Regions from separate parts of the Homo sapiens genome. Here region 1 is linked to region 2. Evidence: fine-mapped expression QTL. Tissue or cell type: whole blood. Region 2 holds a variant in brackets; the other region holds the start of a gene. Each region is shown on its reference strand, or each on the opposite one. Region 1 holds the start of FZD6 (frizzled class receptor 6). Region 2 overlaps BANP (BTG3 associated nuclear protein).

Region 1 (2,737 bases), not on the chromosome of region 2:
TATTTACTTCTGTATAAATCAACTTACTACAATTTTTCCTTCCAAATAATGGAACAAGTATTCACTTGAATTTCAAAACTATCGTTTTCAAATGATACTTTAAAAGTATCGTTTTCAAACGATATTTTAAAAAGTATCGTTTTTAAATGATACTTTTAGTGATACTTCACTGCCTGGTAGTCACTAGAGCCTGATCACAAAAAGATCTCATTAAGTTCGTAGAAACTGGAGAGAAATAGTCTTCCAATGTAGAAAATTAGAAATTTAGGGGAAAATATTCTTCCTACATAGAAATTTATTCTGCAATACATCAACTATCCAGCTCTTAATGATGTTAATATTTCTTCATCACTACCTGTCTCCCAACATCAGTAAGCTTTTGATAAAACTGGGGAGGAATTCCCCACTCCAAATTCGTCTTTCCCCACAGATTCCAAAACTCTTACTCTGGTTGTTCAGGGTTGTCCTTCTAGGTATGGAAATATGACATTCCTTTTCTGCAACAGGATGATTTATCTGACAAGAATAGCCTCCATCTACAAGTTACTTTGCATTTTTCAAAGTACTTCTACAAGTTCATTTGCTTCTCATACTATTCTGCCTGTTTCATAGGAGGGCCTTACAGGTTAGGTGTAAACACTTGTAACGAACTTGGCACTATTTGACTTACAGCCAGTGCTCAATTAACGTTAACCATCATTACAACTATTGTCATTCCTATATTGTGAGGAAACTATGCCCCTTAAAGATTAGGGTAATTTATCTAATATCTATGACAGAGTTGGTACCCCAAACTAGGTTGATTTCTACAGCAGTTCAACTTCCTATTAGGGTTTGTATCAATAAAACTGTGGGACCCGCCAGGGCTGGAATCCCACTGCTACCTGAGCATCCAGTTGGTGACCAGGCTCCCCGAATTAATAAAAGTATTTGTTGTTGTTTTTATAGCAGTTGTCCAGGAAGTATCTCCTTTCGAACTCAAGTCACTTGGGCAATTGGCTTTACAAAGCAAATTGGCTCCGTTTAAGGATTCTTGACTCCTGAAATCCGCAAGGAAGTGGGTTCTTTTAGAGCCAGCGCCAAGAGCTTCAAAAAATCCTTCTAAGGTGAACCCCTCCGGACCCGGATAGCGAGATGGGGCTCAGCCTTGCGCCTCGGGGGTCGTAACAGACGGCAAGGTGGAGGTGGCTTCCCGGCCCCGCAGCCGGACCTCGGCACCCCGAGCCCGTTCACCGGGGCCGGGTCCTGGCGGGCCGCGGAGTGAGGCCGGGCGGCGCAGCGCAGGCGGTGCCCGGGCGCAGGGCCAGTCCCGCCGCCGCCGCCGCCGCCGCCGCCGCCGCCGCCGCGAGCCCGGACCTGCCCGCCCGACCTGGCGGCGCAGTCTCGCGGGATCGCTCAGCTCTCGCTCCCCGTGCGGCTCTCGAGGCAGCTCCAGTCCCGGACGCAACCCCGGAGCCGTCTCAGGTCCCTGGGGGGAACGGTGGGTTAGACGGGGACGGGAAGGGACAGCGGCCTTCGACCGCCCCCCGAGGTGAGGCTTCCACGGCTGGGACTGGGCAGGGGCCGGGCGGGTGCCGGGGGAAGCGGGGAGGGCCTCGAGGGGCGAGGGGCCGCGGCTGGGATGAGGCGCGCCGGGAGCCGCAGGTGCTGGGGAGGCAACGGCGGGACGGCCCGCACCTGAGTTTCCTCGGAAGCGGGAACCGGCTCTGAAAGGCGATGCCGGGGCCCCGCGGCGCCGCGCAGGCCAGGAACGCTGCTGTCTGGCTCTAGGCCTGGGGCAGGTTCCCGGGTGTGGGGCGCTGGCGGACCGGGCATCAGTGTGTGTTGGGGCGCGGGTAATTCGTAATCCGGGGCCTACAGCCTTCCTCCCGCAAGGGGACTGCCTTCGCCCTTCCCCCGGGACAGATTTGCGCACTTTCCTTTCGACGGCAGCACTACACCCTCCTAGCCAGTGAAAACTGCAATGTTGCTCCTCCACTGGAGGAATCCTAAAAGTCTCCCTCTAGTTGGCCTTACGAAAATCGAGAAAACTACATACCCAGAAGACTGCCACAAAAACTGACTCTTCAGAGTCTTTTACAAGTTTAAGAACTCTTTGGGTCTTAAGGAATTTCCCAGGGCCTTAGTTTTCTTGTACTTAATAAGCTTTCCAACAGGGGCCCTTAGATTGTATGCTTATATTAATCCTTTATAATTTACTCCGAATCACCAGCTTTCCTTTTTTCCTCCATCTTACTCTTGCCATTCCCTCTTTTTAACCCTGTCTTCCATACAGCACCAACCTCCTAGCATCGGTTTCCTAGAGGTGCAGCTTCCTTAGCAAATGATATATTCCATGCTAAGGCAGGTGGAAGAGTATCTCGTTAGGACAGAATTTTCCGTTGTTTTTCCAGTGTTTGTTACCTGGGGTGAAAATCTTAACTCTGCACTTTGACTCCACATTTGAGTTTATGACAAATGTTGCTGATACACCCTCCTTTTGTTTTTACAGTAATTGACCCAGGACTCATTTTCAGGAAAGCCTGAAAATGAGTAAAATAGTGAAATGAGGAATTTGAACATTTTATCTTTGGATGGGGATCTTCTGAGGATGCAAAGAGTGATTCATCCAAGCCATGTGGTAAAATCAGGAATTTGAAGAAAATGGAAATGTTTACATTTTTGTTGACGTGTATTTTTCTACCCCTCCTAAGAGGGCACAGTCTCTTCACCTGTGAACCAATTACTGTTCCCAGAT
Region 2 (3,022 bases):
TGTTGGCACGTACACTGGGGACTGGGTGGTGACACCGTGCATGCCCACAGGGGTGGAGATCTTTGTGGAGTTCACTGATGGATCCCAGAGGCCCAGGACGGGATGGCACGCTTTTCTGTGAGGGTCAGAGTGTAAGTGTTTCTGGCCTTGTGGGGCGTGGGATGTCTCGTGCCACTGTGAAGCCGCTCGACTCTGCTGTTGGGCTGAGAAGCAGGCACCTTGTTTGTGGACGCTGACATTTGAGTTTTATGTAATTTTCTCATCATGAAATATTGTTCTTTTGTTATTTTTCTGTTTTAAAATGTAAAACCCATTCCTGGCTCACAGGCTGCATAGAAGCAGGTGGAGAGCTGGGCTGGGTTGTGGGCCCTCACGTGCCACCCCCTGACCTAGAGTGTGTTTGCCCTGGGAAGGAATAAGACGAGGTTGTGTAGAGAGGCAGTGGCTGGATGGGGAGAGGCCTGGGCCCTGCACAGAGGAGCTGAGGTGTGAGGCTGCTTGCGAGGGAGGCGGCTGACCAGGCTTGGTACTAGCAGGCTCTCCGGGGAGGAGGCCCCCTGGAGGAACAGCGCTGGCGTCAGCCACAGAAGGGCTTAGCGGCCATGGTCTTCCTGCTGCAGCCCGTGTGGTTTTGGGAGGGACACATGGAGCATTGGAGGACAAAGAGACGGCCAGATCGGAGTGTGTGTGGCAGAGGGGCGATGCCACCCTTCGGAGCGATGGGTGCCAGGGTACTCGGTGAGAGCCCAGGTCCCGGGTGAGGGGGTGGGCTGAGGGGGAGTCAGAGAGGGAGGAGCCTCGGGATGCGGAAGGGCGAGAGCAGGGCGATGAGGGTGGGGCCGCAGGGAGGTGGCCGGGACTCCTGGTAGTATTCTTGGGGAGAAAGATAACAGGGAAGTGAGGAGGGTTCAGCTGTGGAAGTGCTGGGATGGCTGATCCGAGTGACCATGGCCTAGACGGGGTTTAAACCCTGGACTGAAGAAAGTGCCGGTGAGAGGTCAAGGCAGGAGATGGAGACCTGGGGGTGACAGGTGTCCCCGGCACCTCCTACCCCCACCCTGGGAGACAGTCCCAAGGGGCACCTTCACTGGGGGCTGGCCCTCATGCACACCAGCCAAACCTCCTGCCCACCTTCTGGGGGCTTCTGGAGCAGAGCAGAGGCCCCGCGGACCGTGAGGATGGCCACAGGGAGGGGAGATGCGAAACACTGGCCGTGGCAGGTGCCCACGCAGTCAGGAGCTTGCTTGTGGGGCTCTTGTCTGACACCTGGGAGATGAATTTCAGTCTGATGGTGGATCTGGACCCAGATGGCTTGCTTGGGATTCAGCAGCTCTTGGGAAGAGCCACACTTGAGGATGGGCTTGG[G/T]TGAGGGTTTGGAACGTGCTTAAAGAGGTTGGCAGGCAAGGATTTGGTGGTAGCAGGTGGGGCACATCGTGTATTGGCAGGGTTTTGTTATTTTTATCCTAAAGACATACTTATTTGCAAACCTTCTATTTTGGAACATTTTGAGATGTATACATATGTGGCAGAGATAGCATAGGGAGTGCCCTTGTGCCTGGTACCCAGTTTCTCCCGTTGCTAACAAGACGCATGACAGCAGTTCATGGCACAGTGTTGGGTGTGCCCCGGCCAACTCAGCAGATGAGCTGTTTCACAAAATCAGTGATTCTGCTCTGATAAAATGGCAAGTCCACGGAAAGCACTTTCATTGTATTTTGAAGTTGGGTGGTTGTTGAGGGATTATTTGAGTTGTAGTTGAACTAGCTGCTCTTTTCATGGAACACTATAAAAAAATAATTTACAGATTACTGACATCTCTTACTAAATGAGTGAAGTTAGCCTCTCACCTCAAAGAAGTCAGCTAACAGTGTTTGTTGCCAGTGATAAAGTTTGAGCTGTCAAGTGAAGTTGGAGTTTTGGAAAGTTTGTCTTTGCCACCGTGAGCCCGAGAGCTCCCAATAAATCAGATGCCAGTGCTAATGCTGATGAACCGTATGCTTTTGATATTATAGACTGAACAACATTTGCAAGAGCTGCCTAACTCGGTGAAGCAACATTTTCCAGATGGTCGATGCGGGATCACGCCTGGGTAAAAGATCCATTTAGAGTACAAGTCAAGCCAATGGATCTTAAAGCCATAAAGTGCAGAAGCTCATGGATACAGTTCACATTCCATATTGCAAACAGCCTTTAAGGAAAAATAAAACACACTTGTTGCGTGTTGGTGTGGTGTCAAAGAGGAATCTCCATAATTATCTGAAGAGCCTATTAAGATACTTTTCCCTTGTCTAACTGCATCTCCTTGTAAGGCTGCATTTTATTTTATTTTTTCGTACTTTTTGTAGAGACAGGGTTTTGCTGTGTTGCCCGGGTTGGTCTCGAACTCCTGGACTCACAGAATCTGCACCCCCCCGGGCCTCCCAAAGTGCTGGGATTACGGGCGTGAGCCACTTCCCCTGGTGAGGCTGCCTTTTTGTCATATGCATCGACCAAAACAACATATCGGAGCAGACCACCGGTGGAAGCAGATAGGAAACTCTAGTTGTTTTCAATTAAGCCGGGCATTAGAAATTTGTAAAAATGTAAAACAATATTATCCCTCTTCTCATTAAGGTTTTGTTGTTCTTTGGAAGCTATAGTTATTTTTCATAAAACATGTTTTGTATGTACCATGAATGTTTGTCCCCTTTGAAACTCATGTTGAAAGCTGGTCCCCAGTGTCACAGTATTAAGAGGTGATTGGATCATGAGGGCTCAGCCCTCAGGAATGCGTTCAGTGCATTTATAGACTAATGGGCTCTCCTCGTGGTGGGTTAGTGATCATGACAGGGCGTCTGTTATAAAAGCCAGTTTGGGTGTCTCTCATATCCCCACCAGCAGGAAGGCACTCCTCAGATGGGACCCCTGGACCTTGGACTTCTCAGCCTCCTGAACTATAAGAAATGCATTTCTTAGGCTGGGCGCAGTGGCTCATTCCTGTAATCCCAGCACTTTGGGAGGATGAGGTGGGTGGATTACCTGA

What was found. PIP is the estimated chance that this variant, and not a neighbour inherited with it, causes the effect. A credible set is the group of variants that fine-mapping cannot tell apart.
Region 1: it holds the start of FZD6, and the variant in region 2 is the best candidate, but not a certain one, in a credible set for the expression of FZD6 in whole blood (TOPMed, PIP 0.67).

The regions. Positions count from the first base shown.
Region 1 is chr8:103,297,465-103,300,201 of GRCh38, forward strand. FZD6 (frizzled class receptor 6) reads left to right here and starts at 1,434. Exons shown (of 7, transcript NM_003506.4): 1 at 1,434-1,531; 2 at 2,492-2,737. The coding sequence starts at 2,644. It overlaps LOC105369147 (a long non-coding RNA gene), which reads right to left and starts at 1,354. Exons shown (of 2, transcript NR_148216.1): 1 at 885-1,354. RefSeq lists enhancers at 1,010-1,510, 1,511-2,011, 1,865-1,914 and silencers at 1,115-1,164, 1,175-1,344, 1,465-1,714, 1,577-1,871.
Region 2 is chr16:87,959,004-87,962,025 of GRCh38, forward strand. The region is part of intron 1 of BANP (BTG3 associated nuclear protein); the gene reads left to right. Among named protein-coding and RNA genes, the nearest start is that of BANP, 9.1 kb to the left of the region's middle. The variant G/T (reference allele first, on the strand shown) is at 1,366.